2 linked regions of the Homo sapiens genome follow. The protein of the gene in region 1 interacts with the protein of each later gene in a pairwise test. Each region holds a gene or a part of one and is shown on either strand. Other genes may lie near its edges.

Region 1 (3,818 bases):
TTGTTTTCACATAGATGTCCATCATGACCCCAAATAATTAGTTGTTCATATAAGTGTAGTAATTGTAATTCAGTAACGTTCTGAGAGATTACTACATCCTATATGTACTAATGATATTTCATTATATTGAATTTTTTAAATTAAATGTTTCACAAGTAAGAAGTTGCAGGTAGACCTACTAATGTGGTCAAACAGCTCAGAAAAGGTGATTAGTTTTTCTCAGGTTTTCAGTGTTTTTGTTTATGTTTTATTTTTTAATTAAAGGTTTCCCCCTTTGATATCTACACATTCTAGGGGTAGCTGACATCTGTGTTCTTAATAACAACAAACAGTTCTTGCCACCAAAAAGAAGCAAATAACATCTAGTACCTGTGGGCAGTTGGCTAAGAGGCTGTGGTATTTTTTGTGTGTATTTGCTTTCTACCTGGGGATCAGAGCAGGCCTGGAATAAATGTCGTTGGTGTTGTCCACTGCAAGGCTTCAGGAGGACATAGACAAAGATCAGCCTACTGAGCAGAGAGTGGTCCAGGTATTGAATGGACTCAATATCCTAGAAGGACTCACATTCTAGCAGGCACTTTTTAAGAATCACTAATGTTTAACCTAAGGATTAGAGGGGAGAAGGCTATAAAGCATAATGGCTATGTTTAACTATTTGAAGGGCTATCCTGTGGAAGTAAAATTAGAATTGCTTACAGTACCCCAAGGAGTTGTGCTGATAAAACTATTAGGTTGGGTGCAAAAGTAATTGTTTTTTTTTTTTTTAATTATACTTTAAGTTCTAGGGTACATGTGCACAACGTGCAGGTTTGTTACATATGTATACATGTGCCATGTTGGTGTGCTGCCCCCATTAACTCGTCATTTACATTAGGTATATCTCCTAATGCTATCCCTTCCCCCTCCCCCTGTAATTGTTGTTTTTGCCACTGAAAGTAATGGCAAGACCGCAATTACTTTTGCACCAACATAAATATTTTTGATCTAGTAAGGCAGAACCTTCTAACAGCCTTGTTTATAGATGGGGTGGCCTCTTAAGTAAGGTGGTGAGTGCTGTATTAGTTCAGCAGAGGTTACCTATGTACTTTTGGGGGACAGATATCATATAGGGGATTCATGTCAGTGACCAAACGAAGTGACCATTACAGCCCTTTTGAAACCTGAGGTGTAATTTTTAAAAATGAACTCACGACTTTAATAGTCATAGACTCAAACCTGAGTTGATTATTATGAATTAGTTTATGGGAGTCTCAATATGTGAATATGATGGAGACAAGTTTTGGAATACAGATAAATCAAGTCACTGTATTCACTCTCTCTCTCTCTCTTTGAATAGCCTTATCTTTGCCTATACACACAAACAGTGCAGCCATCAAAATTTTCAATTTACAAAATGTTCACAGTCATGCTTCTTCCTTGACTAAACACTGGGGTTGCTGCCAGTGGTAATTGGCTTGAAACCAGCTAATTTTTATATATCTATTTAGTCTGGATATTCTAGATGAGTGGCACTATAGTTGCGGTGCTCTAGTCACTGTGCCAGAGCACCAGGGAGGAGGGTGCTTGCTACCACTGACAGCTGTGTGTCATTTAGCAAATTATTAACATCTCTTTGGTAACATGTGACCTCAAAGAAGTCACCTAATTTCTCTGAGCCCAGGCTTCTCATCTGTTAAAAATGTCTCTTCCTATTTTTAGGTAAGTAGTATAAGTCACATCCATAAAAGATTATGTTTTTAAAAAGTCTGGAAAAAGAAAGTTAATAGACAGAATTCCTTCCCTCTAAGAGTCTGCAGATAATGAACAGTACCATAGATAAAGAGATGTTTTTGCTCTCTTACCTACATTAGTTACTATGAAAATTACTTTTGGTATATGCAGAATATTAATATTAAATAATTTTCTAATTGGTCATGCAGTGAAGGCAGCTAATGAAAAAACAGATTTTTTTTCATTTTAATTGGTTATTTCACATGGTGTTTGTGCTACACCTGTGCTTATAATGAGAATGGAGAATTAATCTAACCTTCTGCTCACATGATTCCAGTTTTCATGGTTTATACAAGATAATGATAACCTGATTTGCAACACAATTTGTTGTAGACCTGTGTTTTAAATATTTTTATTAGCAGTTCAGGGACTTCATATACAAGAACTGATATAATATGTATTGCCAACAAGAATTAGCACAAACAGTATACCTTTTAGTTAGATTCTAGTTTCATTATTTGTTTCAATTACTTCTCAGATAATGAAAGAACACAAGGATACAGGATATTGAGAATCTTAAAATGTTATGAAGTATGCATTTTTGTTTTGAAAACCTGTCCCTGTCTGTTTAATGGTTTGGTTTTTAGGAACTATTTTCCTTCCTGAAGTGGGCAGATTTACAAACTAGAATTCATACTGGACTATGGATCCTTTAATCATTAATAGAGCCTTATTAAACTTTTCATTGTATTTTTTATGTCCTGCTCAGATTTGATCTGAGTTGGGAACTAAAAGGAATTTACTATTTCAGAATCTAATATGTCCTCTTCATTTTCTGGATTTGATACGTAATTTTTAATATTATGCAGAACAAACGGATCTTAAGAGAATCTCATGCGTATGACTCTGGAGAGCGTATATTAATACTTTTTTACATGTCAGTGACTTGTCACTTTTGGAGAGGCTACAAAAATAATTGTACAAAACTATCTTATTAAGGCACTTAAAGTAACTTAAGTGCCTTAATAAGATGTTTATAAATTTTCAGTACTAGCTGGAGAAAGCAAAACTATAAGTTCAATTACTGTATATCTGTGACCTTGCCTTGACCTCAGACTTTACATAAAGAGCAAAAAAAAAAAAAACAACAACAACAAAAAAAGCCACCCCAAGAAATCTCTACAAGGAATGCATTTCTCTGAAGTCCTAAGCAGTGTGAGTTAGTGGTGATAAACTCCAGACATTCTCTCATTTGATGGTGTGCTGCCATCCCAGTTCATTATCTTAATAGTGGGCATTAAAATAGAATTAGGTTTGCAAGAGGTAGGGGTGGTTTTGATAAAAATTGTACAAAAGAAGTCAGAGAACATAAGATTGAAATGTCACTAATTAGGAGAGGTAACAGATGCCCTTATGAGCATCTAACTCTTTACACCAATTTTCTCTCTTTGCAAATGAAAGGAGTGGTGGCTAGTATTGTTTCCTGAAAACTCTGCTAATTCCCCCATGAAAAGATGAAATGGAAGTGTCCAACTGTGGTAAAACAGGCAAACATAAATCAACTCAGAAACCCCAAGCCTGTGTACTCAAAGGTCACTGGGGGTTACAGGTTTTCCAGCACGTGAGGCTGCACATAGAGCAATGGAGAGAACTGAAGGAGTCCCATTTTGCCAAGATCTAGTTTTACTCCAACTGCGATTCATCTTTTCCTCTTCCTCAACCCCCCCTTTTATTTTTAAGGAATAACGATTTGTTTCACTTTCTTGGTTACAGGTTTATTAATGCCCGGAGAAGAATAGTGCAGCCCATGATAGACCAGTCCAACCGAGCAGGCAAGTCCCCCATAGTGACTGTATTCAAGTCACGCAAGCGAAAACCATCCTCAAGCCATTCACCGGGAGGTCCGCTACCTGGTAAATAAACTGGGAGTGAGTATAGGAACGCCTGGCAATTAAAATTAAACCAGTTTCGTTTCATAACAACACTAATCAATTTAACATCATTATAAAACGTTTGGAGAAGGTGGAAAAAAAAAGCCAACAGAGAAAAGTAACTCTTAAATAATATGCTCAGTTACAATATTCTTTGTACACATTCAATATATTAAT
Region 2 (4,385 bases), on another chromosome or scaffold:
CTCTGTATCTAGCTCAAGGTTTGTAAATGCACCAATCAGCACTCTGTGTCCAGCTCAGGGTTTGTGGATGCACCAATCGGCACTCTGTGTCTAGCTAATCTGGTGGGGACTTGGAGAATCTTTATGTATAGCTAAGGGATTGTGAATGCACCAATCGGCACTCTGTATCTAGCTCAAGGTTTGTAAATGCACCAATCAGCACTCTGTGTCTAGCTCAGGGTTTGTAAATATACCAATCAACACTCTGTGTCTAGCTAATCTAGTGGGGACTTGGAGAACTTTTGTGTCTAGCTCAGGGATTGTTAACGCACCAATCAGCACCCTGTCAAAACGGACCAATCAACTCTCTGTAAAACAGACCAATCGGCTCTCTGTAAAGTGGACCAATCAGCAGGATGTGGGTGGGGCCAGATAGGAGAATAAAAACAGGCTGCCCGAGCAAGCAGCGGCAACCCGTTGGGGTTGCCTTTCTGGACTGTGGGTGCTTTGTTCTTTGTAATAAATCTTGTTGCTTGCTAACCCTTTGGGTCCCTACTGTCTTTGTGAGCTATAACACTCGCCGTGAAGATCTGTATTTGCAGCTCTTTCTTGAGGCCCGTGTGACCACGAACCCACCGAGAGCGAAGGAACAACTCCAGGTGTGCCCTCTTAAGAGATTTAACACTCATTGCGAAGATCTGCAGCTTCACTCCTGAAGCTAGCGAGACCATGAACCCGCCAGAAGGAAGAAACTCCAGACACGCAGTCTTTAAGAATTGTAACACCGCGATGGTCCGCGGTTTCATTCTTGAAGTCAGTGAGACCAAGAATCCACCATTTCCGGACACAATATGATATCAGGTTGGAATTTGATATTTTAGTTCTACAAAGATTCTGTTGTGTCAGTCCCCGTTGGGCCTAAACTCCGCAAGGGATGGGATATAATATCAGTGCATGTCCAACCGCCCCGCTCCACTCCCGCTTCCTGTAATGGCCATAACTAGTTTTTAAGGTTTCCTTCGGCAGAGAGGGAGGTCCATTCAGTCGGGTGCGGGCCTTAGAATTTTTTTGCTTCACACACCCCAGTTTCGCAATGTCCAGCCCTTGACAACCAACAGAGCACCTGTAGGAGCCCTGTGAAGTTGGTAAAGGGTTGGGGTTGTAATAGCTGTCCAGCAGACGGGGAGACAGGGGTTCAGAGAAGGTGGGCAACCACCACAGCAGGACGCAGCTCCCTACCGCCAGGGCTGGGAGTAGAAGCCGCAGCCTCCGCTCCGGCTCGGCCCCACGAGCACCCTGCAGGTGAAAAACTACAATTTCCAGAATGCCATTCGGAGCGGAGTTACGAAGCGGAAGCGAGGCCGGGGGCGGGGGGGATCCGATGCGCGCCGCTGCCGCTGCGTGGGGGTGAGGGGATCAGGTACGCTGTCCGCTGGTTAAGGGGGCTGGCTGGGGGCTGCGGGGTCTGTCCTGGGACGTCCGCCTCCCTCGCGGGTGGGGCGGACGTTGAGAAAGCAGCGTTTAGCAGTCATGTGGCCTGTGGTACTCCACCTTCCTGATACTTTCCCTTCCTGCTTCCACTCGCACGCTCAGCCTGTGGGCCGGGAGAGACCCGCAGGCGGGGTGCTCTCAGGCTGAATTCGATGTGCCATCACTTAGCGGCAGTGTAGGTACCCATCAGGTGGGAGTTAGGCTAGCAAAGGTCTGAGGCCTCTGCCAACCTAGGGTGGGGGTGCGGAGTGGAGGATTTATGAACTCAGCAAGTATTTATTAAGCATCTATAAGCAAACAACACTTGCCTACATTGAAGGGATGGAGGAGGTTCCGACAACAAGTAAAATAGGTTATGTTGGATAGTAATATGAATGAGGAGAGGAAGGTAGTCTGTGAGTGTCTTAGGGAAGAGCATTGAGGGTAAAGAGAACGGCGAATGTAAAGGCCTTGAAGGGTATGTTTGAGGAACAGCAAATAGACCCCGGAGTGCAGAGGAAACGAGAAAGGTAGACCTTAGTGATCTGCATAGGTCATTGTATGGATTTGGGCTATTTACTGTCAGTGAAATGGAGAGTACTGCAGGGTTCTAAGCAGAAGAGTGGTGATCATCAAATACTTAGGATGCTCACAGGGCTCGGGTACTGAGGGTGTACAGGTGAATTCTTCCAATTCTTCCCTGGGTTTATAATCTAGTGGGGAAACAGGTAGACAGCTGTCATGCAAGGCAGGGTCAGATAATTGGAGCCCCATGAAAGCAGAACGAATGTCATCCCCAAGTCCCCAGGATGTACTATTATGTCAGGTGCTTAGTAGCTTTGTTGAACGAAAGTAATGAATATTCAGCATCGGACCCATAATTGGAGGCTCAGAAAAGATGTTTAATGAAGAAATGAAAAATAAATGAAATCTCACTTCTTGATACTGTTACAATGGCAATTAAGTTTCAACCTGAATGTGAGAAGGGGACAAACATTCAAACCAGAGCAGCACTCAAATTCATAAGATAGGAAATACAAAGGTGCTGCCAGGATTGGGGAAGGGAGAGTTATATAAAGGTCACAGGGTCGGGTGTGGTGGCTCACGCCTGTAATCCTAGCACTTTGGGAGGCCCAGACAGGTGGGTCGCGAGGTCAGGAGATCGAGACCATCCTGGCTAAAATGGTGAAACTCCGTCTCTACTAAAAATACAAAAAAATCTAGCCGGACATGGTGGCGGGTGCCTGTAGTCCCAGCTACTCAGGAAGCTGAGGCAGGAGAATGCGTGAACCTGGGAGGCAAAGCTTGCAGTGAGTCGAGATCGCGCCACTGCACTCCAGCCTGGGCGACAGAGTAAGACTCCGTCTTTTTTTTTTTTTTTTTTTTTAAAGTTAGTTTCACTTTAGGAAGACAAACAAGCTCTGGAGCTGGACAGTGGTGATGGTGGCACACAATGTGGATGCCCTTAGGTGTGTTTTTAACTGCACATTTACAAATGGTTAAAATGGTAGTTCCTATGTCCAAAAAAAAATGCTAAATTTGGGCATAGATAATGTCCCACACAGATTGAGCAGATCTCTGCTTCTGTGATGTCCAACTTCACCTTTGCTTTCTGAGGATCCCTAGGTGGCAATCACCTAATCAGTATTTATTGAGCTTCCATTCTGTGCCAGGCCTTATGCCAGACAACAGAGATACAAAGATACAAAAGAGGTGGGCCCCGCCTTCAGGAGTGTTAGCTTGTTCTATTACTCTTCTGATGGTGGTTGGAGTTGTTTTTATTTGATTTGCAAGGTTATTGCATCCCAAATTCCTGGTTTAAGAAACATTCTCAGGGACTGTAGAGATTTGGAGAAACATGAGGTAAAAGGAGGGGAAAAGAAAGGAAGGGAGTGGGAGTGGTGGCGGTAAACTTCAGTTCAATTAAACAAAAAATAAACACTGCTGTTTTCAAGGTTCTATACTGTGAACTCTTAAGTGTTTAGGTAAATGTAGGTATAAGCCCTCCTACAAAGGAATTCAGTTTGATAGGAGAGAAGATACCAGCACAGACTTTCCAATTTTTGAAAACAACAGTGGAAGTCTGTAGCTCCTAGGATCTCCTATCCTAGATCTCTTTTCCCCTCCTTAGCCAGACTACCTCCAGAGAAATCTCTAGATCCATTGCCTCCCAGTCATTCCCCAACAGGCCCCGGCATACAGTAGGAGCTTGGTGGAATGTTTATTAACTAATGAATGGTCAACACAGGTAAAAATACAAAATGCTATGAAGTTTAAAGGAGGAAGAGATCACATGGCTATTAACTAGCATTTATTTAACAAATGGGTGTTGGTTTTCTCACCCTAATACAATGAAGTTGTCAGTTAAAGATTAGTTTATCTTAATGTTTTCATTTGTTATTTTCTGAATGCCTATATGCAGGAAAATGCAGATGACTCTGATGGTATAAAAGTCTGTTCATTCATCTAAAAGAACTGTCATAATGGGGGTCTAGATATCTTTTGTTTAAAAAAAAAAAAATGGCTGGGTGCGGTGGCTCACTCCTGTAATCCCAGCACTTTGGGAGCCTGAGATGGGTGGATCACTTGGGTCAGGAGTTTGAGACCAGCCTGGCCAACTTGGTGAAACCTGATCTCTACTTAAAATGAAAAAATTAGCGTGGTGTGGTGGTGCGTGCCCGTAGACCCAGCTACTCGGGAGGCTGAGGCATGAGAATCGCTTGAACCTGGGTGGCAGAGGTTGCAATGAGTCATGAGATTGCAATGAGATCATGCCACTGCGCTCCAGCCTGGGTGACAGAGCAAGACTCTCATCTCAAAAAGATATATATATATATATACACACACACACATATATATATACACATATATACATATGTGTATACATACATGTGTATGTGTATATATGTGTGCATATGTGTGTATGCGTGTGTATG

What was found.
Region 2: the proteins of MEIS1 (region 1) and TRMT10B interact in a two-hybrid assay, tested with the Homo sapiens proteins (one large-scale study listed by BioGRID and IntAct).

Annotation. Positions count from the first base shown.
Region 1 is NC_000002.12:66,563,970-66,567,787, forward strand, and holds part of MEIS1 (homeobox protein Meis1), read left to right. Parts: intron 1-3,483; coding exon 3,484-3,542; intron 3,543-3,818. UniProt on the Homo sapiens protein: Acts as a transcriptional regulator of PAX6. Acts as a transcriptional activator of PF4 in complex with PBX1 or PBX2. Required for hematopoiesis, megakaryocyte lineage development and vascular patterning.
Region 2 is NC_000009.12:37,752,454-37,756,838, forward strand, and holds the start of TRMT10B (tRNA methyltransferase 10 homolog B), read left to right. Parts: upstream 1-1,351; 5' UTR 1,352-1,399; intron 1,400-4,385. UniProt on the Homo sapiens protein: S-adenosyl-L-methionine-dependent guanine N(1)-methyltransferase that catalyzes the formation of N(1)-methylguanine at position 9 (m1G9) in tRNAs. Probably not able to catalyze formation of N(1)-methyladenine at position 9 (m1A9) in tRNAs.